Homo sapiens: one gene and its partners. The protein of the gene in region 3 interacts with the protein of the main gene of each other region in a biochemical or structural test. Each region holds a gene or a part of one and is shown on either strand. Other genes may lie near its edges.

What was found. The genes of interacting proteins can lie anywhere in the genome.
Region 1: of the proteins of TRIP12 (region 3) and NAE1, one has a biochemical effect on the other in vitro, tested with the Homo sapiens proteins (one study listed by BioGRID).
Region 2: the proteins of TRIP12 (region 3) and UBE4B form a complex in vitro, tested with the Homo sapiens proteins (one study listed by BioGRID).

What each region holds. Positions count from the first base shown.
Region 1 is NC_000016.10:66,806,976-66,814,006, reverse strand, and holds part of NAE1 (NEDD8-activating enzyme E1 regulatory subunit), read left to right. Parts: intron 1-160; coding exon 161-220; intron 221-309; coding exon 310-443; intron 444-3,234; coding exon 3,235-3,310; intron 3,311-3,593; coding exon 3,594-3,633; intron 3,634-4,931; coding exon 4,932-5,018; intron 5,019-5,393; coding exon 5,394-5,486; intron 5,487-7,031. UniProt on the Homo sapiens protein: Regulatory subunit of the dimeric UBA3-NAE1 E1 enzyme. E1 activates NEDD8 by first adenylating its C-terminal glycine residue with ATP, thereafter linking this residue to the side chain of the catalytic cysteine, yielding a NEDD8-UBA3 thioester and free AMP.
Region 2 is NC_000001.11:10,175,928-10,181,740, forward strand, and holds the end of UBE4B (ubiquitin conjugation factor E4 B), read left to right. Parts: intron 1-2,716; coding exon 2,717-2,891; intron 2,892-3,488; coding exon 3,489-3,635; intron 3,636-3,967; coding exon 3,968-4,029; 3' UTR 4,030-5,312; downstream 5,313-5,813. UniProt on the Homo sapiens protein: Ubiquitin-protein ligase that probably functions as an E3 ligase in conjunction with specific E1 and E2 ligases. May also function as an E4 ligase mediating the assembly of polyubiquitin chains on substrates ubiquitinated by another E3 ubiquitin ligase.
Region 3 is NC_000002.12:229,764,983-229,772,013, forward strand, and holds part of TRIP12 (E3 ubiquitin-protein ligase TRIP12), read right to left. Parts: intron 6,651-7,031; coding exon 6,537-6,650; intron 4,344-6,536; coding exon 4,249-4,343; intron 3,738-4,248; coding exon 3,634-3,737; intron 2,769-3,633; coding exon 2,572-2,768; 3' UTR 1-2,571. UniProt on the Homo sapiens protein: E3 ubiquitin-protein ligase involved in ubiquitin fusion degradation (UFD) pathway and regulation of DNA repair.

The sequences.
Region 1 (7,031 bases), on a different chromosome or scaffold from region 3:
CATATGGTACTGATTCTAAATAAAATTATAAACCAATCAGAAGTTTGTATTTGATTACAATTTGAGAATTCAAAGAACATATCTGAAGAAATAGCACTGAAAATAAAGATGGGCGAATTCTTAATACTGTGTAAGTAAATGTTTCATGTTCCTTTGTTAGATCCCAAGCAGTATTGAAGATATATTTAATGATGATCGCTGCATAAATATCACCAAACAGGTAACAACAACAAAAGTAAAAACATTGCTGCTAAAACTTTGGGTCAAAGTAAAACGCCACTTAATGTTAATTTTTTCTTATTCTTTTAGACTCCATCATTTTGGATTTTAGCTCGTGCCTTAAAGGAATTTGTGGCCAAAGAGGGTCAAGGAAATTTACCTGTTCGAGGCACAATTCCTGATATGATTGCAGATTCAGGCAAATATATAAAACTGCAAAACGTGTATGTCACTGTTTTCAAACTATGTAATAGAAAAAGTCTGATTATATTAGAGATAAACATTTTATCATCCTGTCAGAAATCAAATGAAAGTTTATTACAACCTCATTGCTTATAAATAAACTAGGCCAGCTGCAGTGGCTCATGCCTGTAATCCCAACACTTTGGGAGGCCAAGGTGGGAGAATTGCTTGAGTCCAGGAGTTTGAGACCATCGTGGGCAACATAGTGAGACTTCCATCTCTACAAATTGAAAAATTAGGTGGGCATGGTAGTGTTCGCCTTTAATCTCAACTACTCAGGAGGCTGAGGCAGAAGGATCTCTTGAGCTCAGGAGTTTGAGGCTGCAGTGAGCCATGATCATGCCACTTCACTTCAGCCTGGGTGACAGAGCAAGACCCTGTTTCAAATAAATAAGTAAAAATAAGCTGAAGAACTTAGACCAGGCTGGGCGCAGTGGCTCACACCTGTAATCCCAGCGCTTTGGGAGGCCGAGGCAGGCGGATCACGAGGTCAGGAGATTGAGACCATCCTGACTAACACGGTGAAACCCTGTCTCTACTAAAAATACAAAAAAATTAGCCGGGCGTGGTGGCAGGCGCCTGTAGTCCCAGCTACCCGGGAGGCTGAGGCAGGAGAATAGCGTGAACCCGGGAGGCGGAGCTTGCAGTGAGCGGAGATCGCACCACTGCACTCCAGCCTGGGCGACAGAGTGAGACTCTGTCTCAAAAAAAAAAAAAAAGAACTTAGGCCGGGCGTGGTGGCTCACGCCTGTAATCCCACCACTTCGGGAGGCCGAGACGGGTGGATCACAAGGTCAGAAGATCAAGACCATCCTGGCCAACATGGTGAAACCCTGTCTCTACTAAAAAAATACAAAAAATTAGCCAGGTGTGGTGGTGCGCACCTGTAGTCCCAGCTATTCGGGAGGCTGAGGCAGGGGAATCGCTTGAACCCAGGAGACGGAGGTTGCAGTGAGCCAAGATCGTGCCACTGCACTCCAGCCTGGAGACAGAGCAAGAGTCCGTCTCAAAAAAAAAAAAAAAAAAAAAAAGAACTTAGGGGGCAATTCTTGTTAAGCTCAAAGCAAAATTGAATGGGAAATACAGAATTACCACATACGCCTAGGAGGCAGAGTTTTTTTTCATACTTCATGATAAACTTAATATTTGATCCCTTAACTCTGTGCTATGAACTATATGTATTAAGTAATTTAACACACACACAAGGTTCACAACGACCTTATGAGAGAGAGAGAGACTGTTACCGGCCCCATTTTACACATGAAGAAACTAAGGTATTGAAAAGGTTACTTATACAAGGTCAGATAGCTGGTAAATGGCAGAACCAAGATTTGAACCCCAGGAAACCCAGTACCAGAGCCTGTATGCTTAGCTATGGCCCTATACTACCTTGTATTTGTAACTTAAAACCATGAAGGTTTGATGAATTTTTTATCTTAATGTTTCATAAGTTATAGTCTATGACTATAGCTAGACATCTTGCTATCCAGGTATCACTAGCCTGAACCCAGATAGACTATCACAGGGATGGGTCTCAATGAATATGACCCTCGTATAGTTAGGGCATGGTGCAAAGAATCCAGGTCTGCTGGCTCGGTTTCTTTGGGGTCCAAGTAATGTCACACAGAGATGATCTCTCTTCCCCAGACAGATTTCACTCTTTATCATGTCACCATTGAACGAATCTTGGTTTGTTGTCCTAGCCTAAGAGTTCAACTACTTAAAACTTGGGGAAGGTCAATTGAGGATAGAAAGAAGTATGACCTTACATGGGAGGTAGTCAGCCTGAACACTGATGATTTTTAGAGGGTGAAAGGTAAATAGACGTAAAGAAAACTTTTATGGCCGGATGCAGTGGCTCACACCTGTATTCCCAGCACTTTGGGAGGCCAAAGCGGGTGGTGAAATGTGCCACAAGGGATGTTCACAGTTGTTTTAAATGGTTGAAATTTTACGTTTTCCATGGTCTGTCTCAGTGGTATAGATACAGATAATAATTGGGTAAGGGTTTTTTTTTCCTCTCATAATAAATACAGAGTATTTTAAAACAATCAGAGGTAGAGCATGTTTATCTATGGCAATGCTAAAAAGGTATGAAGGTCAGTTAATTGAAAATTGTCATTAATACAGTATTTTCAGTTTCTAAATCACTTGAACCCAGGAGTTCAAGACCAGCCTGGGCAACATGGTGAAACTCCGTCTCTACAAAAAAGACAAAAATTAGTCGGGCATGGTAGCGTGTGCCTGAATTCCCAGCTACTTGGGAAGCTGAGGTGGGAGGATCAGTTGAGCGTGGGAAGTTGAGGCTGCAGTGAGCCAGGACTGCGCCACTGTACTCCAGCCTGGGTGGCAGAGCGAGATCCTGTCTCAAAAAACAAAGAAGTTTTACATTGGAGATGAACAGTTTTAATGTATTTAACTTTCCTTGGACTTGACTTCCAGGAGATAAGTCATGTTCTTCAGTAATGTATTTTTTCAGGTCCTCTGTCACAGAAGCCGAAATCATAGATCCCTCTAGGGGAGCAGTTTTTAAGTTGGGTGCTGTTAGAGGGACCCTGGGTTTTAGTGGGCACTGAGAGTCCGTCACTAACACTGGAAAGATTCCCAGCTACTCATGGTGCTGTTGATAGCATTTCCCTGGCATTTTCACATTTCATACATTGTCAGACCTGTGTTTTTTCATGAAAAGGAAAGAAAATTTTTGTTCATGGTAACAATTTAAATTTTGCTAATTTAAAAATTTGTTAGTAATTGCTTTTTATTCTTTTTTAGTTACCGTGAAAAAGCAAAGAAAGATGCTGCCGCTGTGGGTAATCATGTTGCCAAATTGCTGCAGTCCATTGGCCAGGTAAGCTACTGGGCACACTGTGCCCATACAGGCCTCAGCACGTAACTCCAGCCAGAAAGGGTTTAGAGACAGAGGGTGTGGCACTGCCTCTGTGCTTCTTTAGAGGGAGCTGTCATTTCCCTGCCTAATGGGATAGCTTGTGATAAGGAAACAAGATATTTTTAAAGTGCTCTCCCAGCTCTTGGAGAAAGCCTTCCCATCTCACAGTGATTGGCTTTGTGCCGCACCCTTTGTTAATCTTCTCTTTTAAACTGGAACAGAATCTGTATTTATCTCTTTACAGGCACCAGAGTCCATTTCAGAGAAAGAATTAAAATTACTCTGTAAGTCCCCTTGAATTAATTTCCTTATTTTGCTTGATAGAAATGTGCCACAGGGAATGTTCCCAGGTATTTTGAATGGTTGAAATTTTAAGTTTTCCATGGCCTCAGTGATATAGATATAGATAATTATTGGGTAAGGTTTTTTTTTTCCTCTCATAATACAATACATGGCGAGTATTTTAAGACTGAATCAGAGGTAGAACATGTTTATCTGTGGCAATGCTAAAAAGGCTTGACGGTCAGTTAATTGAAAATTGCCATTAATACAGGATTTTCAGTTTTTAAATTTTAAGTAATTTAGGAAGTTTTTTTGTCTGAAGACTTTGGGTGTGAAGTCTTGAGTCACATGTACATTGACAATATTGGTTTAAATACTCATTTTGATCTGTGTTAAATGACTGTAATGGAGTTAAGAATTTTGCCATCTAGTTTCGGAGTGGTTAGGTTCGTAGGAGTCTTCTCAGTAACTCCTCAGTAGGCCAAAAGCATTTTCTTTTATTTAAGAGTCAGTTTCAAAATACCCAATCTGTTGTGCATGCCATCTGAAGATTTCTCCCTGTAGCTACTGCTCCTACGTCCTGTGGAAGTTTATATTTTGCATGCTCCCCATCCTTAAAATAGATTTATCCAAGCTTTCCATTTTATGACTTCTCCACAATGTCTGTTTAGGCTCGGTTTTAATGTTTTCTGCCACTACTAATCTTGCACCTTGTTTGTTCTATTAGACTAATCTTGAATTAGCGTTTGTTGTATTAGATTATATAATACTAGATCACAAGTTTGATGCTGGGTATTTGAACATTTATTATTCTGTTCTACTTTGGGGCGTTTTTGAAAATTTCAATAATACAAAGCTTAAAGTCATTACATATATCAAGAGTACAATTCATAAACCTCTCTCCTTTAGGACTACTTATCCATAATAATGATGAAAACTATTATTTTTAGAGCCATATCAGGCATTGTGCTAGAGATGCACTTTATACAGATGTCACATTTAATCTGTAGAACAATTCTCAAAGGTAAACAGTATCATCCCCATTTTACACTTGAAAACTGAGGTTCAGAGAGGCCATCACCTTACTTGCTTCTGAACTGGTTGTAGTGCCAGGGATATAAATTTAAGGTGATTCATGTTCTAGTGCTTTCTCTGCTATTAGAACCAAGGAGAAAACATTTCTTCACATTCTCATGTCTGAGAAGGGTATACACATAATTCTCTGTTCTTAAAGTCACCTGTGATTCATAATATTCACCAGTCACAGTCATTACTTCCAGAATATCTTTCCTCTGTTCAGGCAGCAATTCTGCATTTCTTCGAGTGGTAAGATGTCGATCCTTAGCTGAAGAATATGGTTTGGATACAATTAACAAGGATGAAATTAGTAAGTATAATAGCCTTCTGATTCTGGGTTAATTTTAATTAATTTAAAAGATATAAATATTTTGTGTATAATAGTGTTGAGTATATGGTGATGATATTAAAGATAACGTAAACATATTCTAATTTTATTCTAAGCTTATCTAGGTAATTATAATTTATATATTATATGAAACTTAATGTATGCATAAAGTCATATTTAGGTCACTGAGTCCATTGTGTGATATGTATGAGTTAAAGTCAGTATGTTACTACTTCAGTAGAGATTGTGTGACTCCAGTTAATAGTCCTGAAACTCAAGTATATAGTAAATTCAGCCCTTCATTGTTTGTTACATTGCAAATTAACCAAATTAAACTGAAATTTTTTTTCCTTTCAGTTTCTAGCATGGACAATCCAGATAATGAAATAGTGTTGTACTTAATGTTACGGGCTGTTGATAGATTTCATAAACAACAGGGTAGATATCCAGGTAAGAATAGCAATTGAATTACCAGATATAATAAGATCTTCAATAAAACATTTAAATTGAAAGTGTTCTCAGGGTATTTATAATAGTGTTGCTTGAATTTCACATTGTAAACAGATTACACCCCAAACGTTCCCCAGTGAAGAACCACCTTTTGTTTTTTAAGTTTAACTATTTGCAAAATAGTGTTCGATTCTAAACTATTACAGGGGGATGTTGGTTGAATATGTATAGAAGAAAACTTTTTTCTGTCATTTTCCATAGTTTGTTACTAAGACTCACACTGAGTTTAATTTAGTGGAATAGGAAAGCCACAAGAAATATGCTGGCCAGGCATAGTACGGTGGCTCACGTCTGTAATGCCAGCACTTTGGGAGACTGATTCAGGCAGATTGCTTGAGCCCAGGAGTTGGAGACCAGCGTGGGCAACATGGTGGAACCCCATCTCTACTGAAGATACAAAAAATTAGCCAGACATGGTGGTGTGCACTTGTAGACTCAGCTACTCGGGAGGATCACCTGAGCCTGGGAAGTTGGGGCTACAGTGAGTTGTGATTGTGCCACTAAACTCCAGCCTGGGTGACTGTGGTGAGACTGTCTCAAAAAAAAAAAAAAGTATGCTACTAATTTCTGAACTCAATAACTCTGAAGATGTAGGAATTTCTTTGTTTAGTTATCTACTTTTTATCTTCAGCAAATGTAGTCATTGGAGAATTGGCATAATCTCAAAGATCTGAGGTTGCTCAGAATATTTTTCTTTGGGATGATAATTTTAATTGTGCAGGATTATTGCATAGCAACACATTCTAGGGGTATCATAAAACCTGCTGCTCCATCTGATACAGTGTGTCTCCAGAGTTTATAGTCTTTTTTTTTTTTCTTTTGAGACGGAGTCTCGCTCTGTCGCCCAGGCTGGAGTGCAGTGGCGTGATCTCAGCTCACTGCAACCTCCGCCTCCTGGGTTTAAGCAGTTTTCCTGCCTCAGCCTCCCGAGTAGCTGGGACTATAGGCGCCCGCCACCTCGCCCAGCTAATTTTTGTATTTTTAGTAGAAACAGGGTTTCTCCGTGTTGGCCAGGCTGGTCTCGAACTCCTGACCTCAAGTGATCCTCCTGTGTTGGCCTCCCAAAGTGCAGGGATTACACGCATGAGCCACTGCGCTGCCCAGAGTTTATAGTCCTAACAAGCAAGCTTACTAGAAGAAAAAAAAAGAATAAACACCAAATATGTATTGCTTTATTTGTATTATTTGATTAGTATTTATTTCAGTTATCTGTTGCATAACAAACCACTTCAAAACTTAGTGGTTTAAAACAATAAATAGTGTCGTGATTTTGTGGGTTGCCTGGTCTCAGGCAGTTCTCCTTGGGGAGGCATGCAGTTGCTTGAGCCTGGGGGTGGAGTCATTCTGAAGGCTTGACTGACTGAGTTAGACATGCAAGAAGACATTTTTACTCATGTAACTAGCACCTTAGTCAGAACAGTGGGAATAGCTGGCGGCTGGTCAGGTATCTCTTCACGTGGCTAGCTTGGACTTCCTTTTGGCATG
Region 2 (5,813 bases), on a different chromosome or scaffold from region 3:
CTACCTAGTTCCACTACATGTATCACCCCAAAAGGAAAACCCTTAAAGCAGTCGCTGTCTAGACCCCCTTGCCCCAGCCCCTGGCAACCACAAATCTGCTGTCTCTCTTTTCCTATTTTTGGATTTACCTATTCACCTCTCCGGGATATTTCATATAAACGGACTTATACAGTGTGTAACCTTCTATGTCTGGCTTCCTTCACTTAGCATCATGTTTCAAGGTTCATTTGTGTTGTAGAATGTATCAGTATTTCATTCCTTTTTAAGGCTGAATAATATTTCATTGTATGGATATACCACCATTTGTTTATCCTCATCCATTGATAGACATTTGGGTTGTCTCCAGCCTTTGGCTCTTGCAAATAGTGCTGCTATGAACATTTGTGTAAAAGTATTTAAACACCTGTTTTCAGTTACTTTGGGTCTACACTTGGGAGTGGGATTGTTGGTCATGTGGTAATTCCATGTTTAACTTTTTGAGGGATGCCAGAATGTTTTCTACAGCTGCCGCCCATTTGACATTCCCACTGGCAATGTATAAGGTTTAAGTTTCCATTCTTTTTCATTTTTTTTCTTTGGTTTAGTTTATATTCTTTCCATCATGAAGTTTAAAAATTAAACATGTTAATTTGTTTTTGTTTCTTAAATACTCATCCTAGTGGGAGTGACGTGGTATTTCATTGCGGTTTTGATTTGTATTTCCCTAATGTCAAATACCATTGGACACCTTTTCATGTGCTTGCTGGCCATTTTTATATTTTCTTGGGAGCAATGTCTATTCATGTTCTTTGCCCATTTTTTAATTGGGTTGTTTGTGTTTTTGTTGTTGAGTTGGAAGAGTTCTTTTTTTCTTTTTCTTTTTTTTTTTTTTTTTTTGAGATGGAGTCTCCCTCTGTTGCCCAGGCTGGAGTGCAGTGGTGCGATCTCAGCCTACTGCAACCTCCACCTCCCAGATTCAAGCAATTCTCTTGCCTCAGCCTCCCAAATAGCTGGGACTACAGGCGTGCACCATCACGCCTGGCTAATTTTTTTTGTATTTTTAGTAGAGACGGGGTTTCACCATGTTAGCCAGGATGGTCTCGATCTCCTGACCTCATGATCTGCCTGCCTTGGCCTCCCAAAGTGCTGGGATTACAGGCGTGAGCCACCGCGCCCAACCAGAAGAGTTCTTTATGTATTCTGGATGCTAGGTCATATCAGATGATACATGTATCATTGGATATATGATTTGCAGATATTCTTGTGTTAGTCCATTGCATCACTATACAGAAATACCCAAGGCTAGGTACTTTATGAAGAAAAGAGGTTTAGGCCGAGCACAGTGGCTCACGCCTGTAATCCCACCACTTTGGGAGGCCAAGGTGGGCAGATCACTTGAGGTCAGGAGATCGAGACCAGCCTGGCCAACATGGCAAAACCCTGTCTCTACTAAAAATACAAAAAAATTAGCCAGCCGTGGTGGCGCACACCTGAAATCCCAGCTACTCAGGAGGTGGAGGCTTCAGTGAGCCGAGAGCGTGCCTCTGCACTCCAGCCTGGGTGACAAAGCGAGACTCCGTCTCAAAAATTAAAATTAAAATTAACTGGGCATAGTGGCATGCACCTGTAGTCCCAGCTACTTGGGTGGCTAAGGTGAGAGGATTGCTTGAGCCCAGGAGTTTGAGGCTGCAGTGAGCCATGATTGCACCACTGCACTCCAGCCTGAGTGACAGAATGAGACTCTGTCTCAAAATATATATATATATTTATAGTAAAACATATATGGCAAAAACACTGGCCACTTGTTTTGCGATGGTGATACAAATACAAATATATATCATCACTAAGCAAGTGGCCAGTGTTTTTGCCATATATGTTTTACTATAAATACAAACTACAGCATACTTTACTGTTTGGCATGGCAGTGATTTTTATGAATTAGGCACCTGTGAGGTAGATGTTACTCTGCCCATTTTACACTCAAAGAACCTGGGCTTAGGAGGGTTCAGATTTGCCTACGACTGCACAGCTGGTAGGTGGTAGAGCCAGAATTCAAGTTCAGATTTGTCTGGGTCCACGGTGGGCGCCTGACCTCCACTCCACAACTTCCCTTCCTGGGGACATAAATCGTGTCTGTTCCCAGGCCTATTCATCAGTTCACCAGGGTGGTCTAACGTCCATGGAGCCCCTGACATGTGCTAGTGCTGAACTAAATGAGCTTGAAGAAGCTTGAAAGTGAACAGGAGAAGGCTCCTCTAGAGTATGAACAATAGTGGATTGTTTTTACCATGCTTACCTTTGTGGAAGAGAGCTGAAATTTTCACCTCTTCTTTCTTATAGGCTGCCAGGGCACAGTGCCCCCCAAGGACTGAAATAGACTAGATTTCCTTCTCTTTTTAATGTTTAAACTTTAAAAGAAATGCGTGCTAGCTGTAAAAATTCAAAAAAAAAGCCCGTCTGCCTCAGTCCTGCAGCCCTCTCCAGAGGGAGTGACCTCGTACAGTTTGGCACATATTATTCCAGTCTTTATCCATTTGTAAGCATAAAAAGTGCATACTTTTATGAGGCTATAAATGCATAAAGACGGATATATAAAATATATAAGTGTATATATAATTTTAGGGCTTTTTTAGTGGGGGAAAATCCACAAATGGATAATACTTTGGATATTTTCTGCAGCTCGCTTTTTTCCACCTGACGTACATTTACGTCTCACATTGCCATTCCTCCTTTGCAGAGATCCTACAGTAAGGAATTGTTTGAAGAAGTTATTTCAAAGATGCGGAAGGCAGGGATCAAATCCACAATAGCAATAGAAAAATTTAAGCTGCTCGCCGAGAAAGTGGAGGAGATAGTGGCCAAGAACGCACGCGCAGAAATCGACTACAGCGACGCTCCTGATGAGTTCAGAGGCAAGTGGACTCGTCGTTTTCATGCTGATTTCTTTTGAGTTAACTGGAAATCGATAACATTACAAGAGGACGTCCTGTGCAATTAATTTTTTAATGGTGTGCTAGAGCTGCTTTTTGAGACAATCTGTCTTAAATTACATTTGCCTATTTTTAGCTCATATTGTAAATTGAGAGGAAGAAACATCCTTAGCTTAGCCTGACTTAAAGCCAGATAACAACCCTGAAGATTCTAAGGGCAGGGCTGCCTTTGCAAGTGGGGATTCACATTTTCAAAGAATTCCCAGAAGTCCTAAGACAAAGAATTCCAGCCTGCCGTCCTCGCCACGGAGCCTGTGGGGCCTGCTGCTGGGTCTGTCCCAGGCTTTCTTCTCTGTTCCCTCCCCCCAGCAGTAGCTGACAAAGAAGCGCCTTCCCCTTACAAAAGGCAATGTATATGCCTTTATTGAAGGCTGATTTCCTTCTAAACCTGGGGGCCTCACAGGGGCCCTTTGATTGCTGTTCCTTTGGATAGATTTTTCGCTGGTAGAACGGGCTTTGTTTTCTTTTTCAGTCGTGGGCTCTCAGTAGATTAGAGTTTGCTTTGCTTTGTCCCCGCAGACCCTCTGATGGACACCCTCATGACAGACCCCGTGCGGCTGCCCTCTGGCACCATCATGGACCGCTCCATCATCCTGCGGCACCTGCTCAACTCCCCCACGGACCCCTTCAACCGGCAGACGCTGACAGAGAGCATGCTGGAACCAGGTAGAGGAGGGTGCAGTTTGAGGTGCAGCGCTGGCGTCAGTACCAAGAGATAAAGCCCAAGTCACATATTGGAGATGAAGCAGAAGGGAAATTTATCAAATGCAGAAACTACCTACTTTATGACACTCTGTAGCAAAGACCCAAAACACTCTTGGCCCTTTTTCCCTGCAGACATCCAGTCCCTCCCTCTCATGTCCCAGTCCTTCTGGAGTCTTCGGCTCAATGAGGGAAAGAATGGCCTTTTCTTCCCATTTATACAGAGCGACAAGCATCCTCTCTCAGGAAGAGCCCTCCCATCTGGGGCATTAATCCTCCTTTTTTTCTTTTCTCAGTGCCAGAACTGAAAGAGCAGATTCAGGCGTGGATGAGAGAGAAACAGAACAGCGATCACTAAACCGTTCCGCCGCCCACCCTCTGCTAGACACAGCCAAGGCCAACGAGGCAAGCAGAAGCAGCGGCCGCAGCGAAGCTGCCGTTCATGTGTTGGAGGCCAAATGTGGCAAACCAACCCCAGGCCCACCCAGAGCGAGCAAACGCTGAGACCTGAAAGGACATGGATGAGAAGAGGAGCCCGCTTCCTGTACATATATTTAAGTGACAAACACGGTCAAAAGCTTAAGGGACAGGTTTTATGGTTGCTTGTGTAATAAAGCATGTCCTTCGTATGTCACAGTTTGGGGCAACGGAAGTCTTTTAGTGATGGCTAATGGGTCTGGGCAGCATCCCTTCATGAATTTTTTTTTAATCCAATATCCGTTGATTTGATTGTGATTAGAGAACCTTGGACATTTTGCTGCTAAAGAATCTTTTTTCCCCTCTCCCCCTTCCTGACCCTACTTGCACTGCTGTGGATTTTTTTAAGAGAAGCAAAAACAAAAGTAAACTCCTTTCCCTGGCCCTCCAAACATATATTCTGTGAGATAACTGTGCCTGCTACCAAGTGTTAATCCTGGGATCGTATTTTTATATCATATTCACATATTTGTTTTTTTAATTGGTGTTAGATGACATGATTAATAAAAAAGGCAAGATATTTTCAGAATTTGAATTTCAGTTTTTTTTTTCTTTTGAAATGTCCCTTTAAGATTTTTTTATTCTAAACAAAATAAAGAAAATCCTGCTGCTCTGGTCCTTGTGATAAGCCTCTCTTCGGCATCTGAGGAGCAGCTGCAGCAAAATCTAGGGGTGTAAGTGTATCAGGACTTATGTGACTTATATTTTGGGGAGATGAGGGTTGGGTTTTTTTTTTAATGCTACGTGACAGTTTGAAACCTTCACAGTTATCCTCTGGGGGTAAATCAATTCTTCAACCCTTGGGTGTGTGAGTTTGAGGCAGGGTCATTTGTGTGATGTGTTTGGCCTTACCAAAGCAAAAGAGGGTGCAAGAATGTGGGAGTATGTCTGCCGGTTTCAACACACACAGACAAACACAGCCACACGCGCACACAAGTATAAGACTTTTTGTATTACTGCTCCCTACTTAACATACTTGAATTCTCAAATTTCCTTTGGGGTAAAAAAAAAAAAAGGATTTGAAACCATAAAGTGTTCTGAAGAAATTAAGTCTATAAAAAGCATACTTTCTTTTTTCTTTTCCTTTTTTCCCTCCACAGACAATGTCCTCTGTTCAATTCCTAACGCAAACTACAATAAATGGTGACACACGTTCAGAAGAAATCTTCTTTGAGTCTCTTCTCTTTTGTGGAAAAAAAAAAAGGGCAGGGCGGGTGGGTAAACAAGAGCCAAGTGAGTTTGCATGTGGTGAATGATCTTTCCTGGATCCAATTAGGAGCTGCTATTTTTAAAAGAAAACTTTCTTATTCATGTCAGTCTCGACATTTGGTTCTCATTTCACTGTTTGCTGATTTGAGGGGGTAAGCTTTGTCATATTCAGTCTTCTGCCTTTCTTGAGTTTCTTCTGCTTTATCTCAAGTATCTTCCCTGACCTTCAAGATTCTTCCTCAGGCCGGGCCCGGTGGCTCACGCCTGTAATCCCAGCACTTTGGGAGGCTGAGGCGGATGGATCACCTGACGTCAGGAATTCGAGACCAGCCTGGCCAGCATGGTGAAACCCCATCTCTACTAAAAATACAAAAAATTAGCCGGGCGTAGTGGCAGCGCCTGTAGTCCCAGCTACTCGGGAGGCTGAGACAGGAGAATTGCTTGAACCTGGGAGGT
Region 3 (7,031 bases):
AGGCATCTAAAACTCCGTGTCTGCTCCCAATTAGTCTACCTAGAACTTACAGTTCAGTTTTCTGGGGGGATAGGAAGAGGGGATTACATTTAGCTACCTCTTCCTTCTTGGAATAGTTAAAAATACGTTCTCATATATAAAGCAGATCGAATCAGTAACTGTCTAAATGACAACACAAATTCGGTGTTAGCTATGACTAACATCTGACTGACTCCATCTCAGCAAAAAATAAAGGACAACAAAATCTCAGTTGTTACCCAACTAAGTGTTTAAAGTATACTAAGAAGTTAGTGCTCGTTGATAGGATTACCAAGCAAATGAATTTAAGGCATAACTGGAGTAACAGCAAATGAAGTATATACTTTTTCCCTCTGGTGCAATAAGGCCTCTGCCAAGAGAGATTACTTTAAGAGTTTTCCTGCCCCAAATTAACCAAAGGTCCCGTGTATTGAAGGAGGAATAAGCTAAAGGCTGAGGCTTTTAAACAGGTAACGACTGACTTTGAAACACTCAAGACTTTAGAGTTTGAGTCAAAATCATCATATATACTTATTAGATGCTGGAATCAATGAGGCCAAATTTGCCAGGGCTGCAACATGGATAAAATGTCAAGTACAGATGAAACATTATTTTGTTTATACATGTCTAAATTTTAACAGAACCCTTTAAAAATCAGGAACAAAATGCTATGTTCACACAAAAATCCTTGTGCTTAATTTGCAGGAAGATATCAGAACAGTTGAAAACAAATTGTTTCAGTCTTTAACTTCACTTGATGAAGCTGCTCAGCAACTGTGCTGTTAGTGGTGAAAACTGCAGAAACACAATTCCCTTCTTGGATTTCAGGGAAAAGCCATTCACTTGTCAGTCTCTGCAGAGACAGGGAGAGAATTCTCTGCCCCCAACTCCTCTGACAGTTCCCTTCCACTTAATGGGGTCACTGCCCAAGTGAACTCTCAGGAGGGGACATTTCCATATAAGGCCATTTAAGTGTAAATTGACACAGCAATCTATGTCAAACAAGCCACTGAGTTTCTTTTGGGTGGTGGGATAGGGAAAAGGGCTTTTGTGTCAATTAATTAAAACTTACAGAACAGTCAAAAAAATTGATTTCTCAAAGTTCAATTAAAAAAAAAAACTAGCTCATCTCTTATTTTCAAGGAGATGAATTATGGAAAATTCCTTCAAATTTATGCCACAGGCCTAGTTTTGGACCTTAGGAAGGAATCTCCTCCCATTTTCTCTTCACATTTTAGTTTCTTCAAGTTGCTATTATAAATTGTTTGAATAGCAAAATCAGCCATGACCCGAATCATGGAGATATGTGGATTTCCTTGCATTGAAATACATCTATACAATTGAAAGTTATGCATACAGCACAAAACTATAAACAAAAAGGTGAAGCAAACTTTCTTTATTTTCAGGTAAAAACATTAACCTGATGGATTATTGCAGATTTGAGAAATCAGCACATAAAATGACTGGACAGCATTGCTTACAGGTGCTTTTATCTGCGTCGAGACAAAGGCTGAACTGTTTTGTCCCAAGTCAGCACTGGGAGAAGGGGAAGAGGAGCGTGGAATAAAGAAGACTATGAACAAAAACGTAAAACAACAAAGGGAAAAAAATTTTTTTACTCCAACAGGGAAGGAAAACTGCTTATTTTGTTTAAAAAATTTACATTAATTTAAAATCCTCTGGCCACAGAATAATAAATACCGGCCAGCCCAAGCTGTAGACTTCTTAACCTTCATAAAAGAAACAAATGAGCTTTCCTTGTCTCATTCCAGAGGCTGTTGCTGCTGGAATTGCCATGTAAACAGTCCTTAGTGTGTCACCTGGGAAAAAGCCAGTAATACCCTAAACTATATTAAAACTAAACTATAAGAAAAGTCTACCTAGTTACAAAAGCTGAATTATATTCAATAAATTTCAATCCAATGAATTTTAAATTAGATCTTAACTGGAGAGAACATGGGACAACAGAAGCCCATGGGTAACGAAAATTTGAGAACTGTGAGTTGTATACAAAAAAAAAACTGTGAGCTGCACAGATAATAATGAATCAGGGAGAGAAAATCAGAGGAAAGTGAAAAGCACATAGAGCTAGTCTACTAAACTATATTTGTCAAATACATGTGAGCTTAAATTTCTGTACTTATGTACAAGAGTTGTCTTTGGAGGAAAGAAAACTGCAGACTTAGCTAGATGGATACACACAGCCCAGAATTAAACTGCACAGCCACATTTATTGTTCCAGCCTGGAAAAACATCCCTTTTTTAAATTTCACACAGCAAAGCATGTTAAAAACTTCACTCATCAAATAAATGATAATTTAAACAAGAACTTGCTAAAGAAACCTCATCACAACAACGTTTTAGGGCCTGATCACTTTAAGTCCATGGGGCCATTAATGAATATCAACCAAATGTCTCTTTATAATCTGCAAGCCGTTTTTCCTACAACAAGAAGGCGTAACATGTTTCCTTGACTCAGGTGATAACATTAGAAAAGAAATCATGATTTGTTTCTTTTGCTGTAACAGGCAGACACTGCATTTCTTGCTATGATCAGGAAAGATGGAACGACTGCTGCCCTTCTCTTGCTGCTATCAACAGTTTTTCACGCATTATCTCAATGCTTGAATAGTCCGGCAACTTAAGATAGTTCACACAAGTCATTACAGAGGGCAAGAAGTCATCTGGGTTTTCTGTTGATTCAAACGTCTTTCGGACAATTGTCAAAGGTGGATTCAAACTCCGGAATCCTGATTAAGAGAAAAAGAAAGACAAGGAACTTAAGTTTTTAAAAAACATCAGCTATCAGAAAACATTCCACTGCTTTGCCGTACAATATTACACACAAGATATTCTTTCTTGCTTGGCAATTGCACATTCAATATACATTAAGTGCAAGGAACCTGCTTTAATTTATCATTTAAAAACTCGCTGTATAACATGGAGGCAACAGTTCTTTATGTCTTCTGATTTTTAAAATGGAATACCCACAGTGGTTCACGCCCGTAATCCCAGCACTCTGGGAGGCCGAGGTGAGCCAGTCGCTTGAGAGTTTCAGACCAGCCTGGGAAACATGGAGAAACCCTATCTCTACAAAAATACAAAAATTAGCCAGACATGGTGCTGTGTTGTGCCTGTAGTCCCAGCTACACAGGAGGCTGAAGCAGGAGGATCTCGCCTGAGCCCAGGAGGCAGAGGTTGCAGTGAGCCAAGATCACGCCACTGCACTTCAGCCTGGGTGACAAGAGTGAGATCCTGTCTCAAAAAACAAAACAAAAACAACAGAATACCAATTTAACTTACATTAGGATTCAATCTGAAAAACCAGATTTTAGAATCCATTCTCATCTAAGTCAACTAAGAGTTTAGAATGTACAAATGGCCTGGAATTTTATCTAACCAGCATTACATGTGCATTAGTAATCCTACTTCAATATGTTTAAGACAATCCCCATGGATTTCCCTGCTAGTGGTCTCAATGTACTATAATGATACTGGAATAACTAAGAGGCACTGCAAGTGAGATAAAGAATCTCCTGCTGATGGTACTGAAGTTTCACACTCACAAACCCACCCATAGGTAGAATAAATGCTAAACATCAACATCGTACCCACCTCCAACAGGCAATCTTGGGCTACCAGTCACAAACTGGAGAAATAACCTCTGCTGCTCATTATCAAAACTACTGAGAATCTCAAACAAAAACTTCACAGCCCGACTATAACAGAAATAAATATACCAAAATTATTTCATCAGGTTAAAATAGAGTTTTAATCACACTGCATCGCATCACATGACATAAAAATTAGATTAGCACTTTTAAATTACACATACATTTTCCATTACAATGTACTTAAATTCGTTTCTGTTATGACTAGACTAGAATTCAAATGGAATGATTACAGTTGTAATAAGTAAGACTTGATCTGGTACTGTACAGATATTTCTGCTTTACTATATGTAATAATGGGGAACAAGATTAAATCTGTCTTCCCCAACCCCTAGTATTTTCACAGAAATACTTGAGAAAGAAACCCTTGGGTCTTAATTTCCCATCTTCAGAGAAATAAGGCCAAAACAGAAGTAAGCATCCATTAACAGGTAGACACATTTTAAAATGAACCACTCCAACTTTTGTTGTTTACACATGTGCGCATGTGTGTGTACACACACACCCCTCTCCACATTCTTCAGAATCAACAGAAAAACTGGCAGACCCCAGTACTTACCTGTCATGAGTATAACCATGATCAGGCCTACAGCATTCCATCAGTGTCTTTGCATCCCAAGTGTCTGCTTTACTGCCACAAAGGAGCTGATCCAGCTGTGAGTTTAAATAAGGGTAAAAAGAATTACTAAGGAAACATTTGTTTACGTGAGTGAAAATAAAGGTCTACGTGTACCATAAAAGAGTATCAGTCTCAGTACTAAAACCTTCTGCTTGGGACCTCTTTCCAAAAAAAAAAAAATAATAATAAAATAAAATAAAATTTAGAGATTCCATTTCCTTTTTAGCTGTACGCTATTAAGTACCCTGCCCATCTGCAGGGACTTGGTTCCTGAGAAACCCTTCCTCTCAAACCAAAAACACCTGATGACCCTTGATTTCAGTTTTCCTTTCTTCTCATTACTTTAGGTGCTTTAAATGGATAATCTGCTTCTAGTCAGGGAGATTTTATAAATCCTGGCTTTCAGAAACACAAAGGTATACAGTAACAGATGCCAAGGGAGAGAACATTGAGCTGGAGAAAGAAGTGGGAGAAGCAAGCTGAACTAGGACACAGCAAATGGGTAGGTCTTTACACTTTGTAGAGAGGCATGTCTACGCTACATGGTTGGTTGTATGGGGACCAACCCAGATATTATAGAATGAATATTAGAAAGCAATAAATGCTTTCATGTCCTTATACTTTGAGAAAATCCAATTTGAGGCCAATGAAATTTAATATCTATTATATAATGCTCACTGTCTGGTCCTATATATTTAAAGACAAAGCTTTGCTCTGTTGCCCAGGCTGGAGTGTAGTGGCCTAATCACAGCTCACTCCCGTCATGATCTCCTGGGCTCAAGTGATCCTCCAACCTCAGCCTTCCAAGTAGCTGAGACTACAGGTGCATACCACCACGCCCAGCTAATTATTTTTTTTATTTTAGACAAGGTCTCACTATGTTGCCCAGCCTAATCTTAAATTTCCGAGCTCAAGTGATCTTCCCACCTCCATCTCCCAAAGTGCTGGGATTATAGGCTAAGTCACTGTGCCCAGCCTATTTAATTTCCATTACTCTGTGATAGGGGTTATTCCAATTTTACAGATGAAACAGTCCTATCAGATACAGTAACTTGGATAAGGTTATACAGCAAGTGGTGAGGACCATGATTCTATTCCAGGTGACAAGCAGTGCCTACAAGTATCAGGCACACTACATGCTTAAGTAGACACAAATATAACTGAGATTAAGACGTTAAGTTAATCAAAAATTTATAGATTTAATCAGTAGTGAACATACACTCTAAAACTAGTATTCAAACAATAAATAAAAAGGTTTCAAAACTGAGGGAAACTGGACACATTCTAGAGGCTTTCTGTATCTCACTACCAGTGAGTAGTTCTTTTGAGATTTGGCACTTGAAATTAAAGACGGTAATATGGTTTGGCTGTGCCCCTACCCCAAATCTCATCTTGAACTGTAACTCCCACAATTCCCACCTGCTGTGGGAATGACCTGGTGGGAGGTAACTGAATCATGGGGGCAGGTCTTTCCCAGGCTATTCTCATAATAGTGAATATGTCTCACGAGATCTGATGGTTTCAAAAAGGGGAGTTTCCCCGCACAAGCTCTCGTCTTGTCTGCTGCCATGTGAGATGTGCCTTTCACCTTCCACCATGATTGTGAGGCCTCCCCAGCCACGTGGAACTCTAAGTCTAATAAACCTCTTTCTTTTGTAAATTGCCCAGTCTCGGTTATGTCTTTATCAGCAGCATGAAAACAGACTAATACAGGCGGCTAGAGAAAACCAAGCACATAAATCCATTTCTTCCATTCTCAGAAGTATTCTCTGTATTTGGCAATTAGATAATTTATAATACTTTCTTAAAACTTCAAGGACTAACTTTGATTGTGAAACAATGTCTCATCGAAACGAAGTTTAGTTAAGGAATAAAGTCAAGCCCCCTCCATGTCTCTCTTTGCTTCCACAGCAGTACAGAAACATGTAGAACATGCCACACACAGCACAAGTCCCCATTCTCCACTGAATGGCATTGAGGGTCTTGGCTGACAAAGATGCTATGCTTACTGTCACGCGTGGAACCCGCTCCCCAATCTAAGAGGGGACACCTATTTAACATTCTTCCTTGCTCAGGCAATTTCCTTGTCTTTCCCAAACATCCATCCCCTGCTATCTAACACCCATTTTTTTGTTTTTGTGCAACAATACGGTCTTTGACTAGGCAGCACAGAAACACTCCACTAAAATTATAGGTATGACCATTTCTTTTAGATATAAGCTACTCACTTCCTCCGGGTAGAAGTACTGAAGATGACTGAGTGGGAAGACTGATTCAAATCCATCTCTGAACGAATCAAATTGCCTAGAAACGCCTTCATTTAGTGCCCAGAATATAACCAGCTGCAAAAAGAAAGTTTTCAAAAAACTGTGACAAGATTTCAAATCTCTTTACTATTTAATATGTGGCAAAGTACAGTGAAACACCCTTCTGGATCACTTTATAAAGAACAAACAAGTTATTAAGACTTTAAAATAATCTGCTAGAAAACTACATGAGTAAAACATCAGGTCAACATCTAATGTGGGGCCCCTACCAATAACAAAATGTAAAAAAAAAATGCCATGTGCATTTACATTTAGTGTGTTTTAAAAATCTATTTATGTGAAACCCATGCCATACAGTTATATTACCTCACTGGATGGGAATCAAATGAGAATTTCCCAAGAGGATAAAATGTTATTGAGAATTAAAGGTAATGTTTGAAGAATCACAATTAGCCA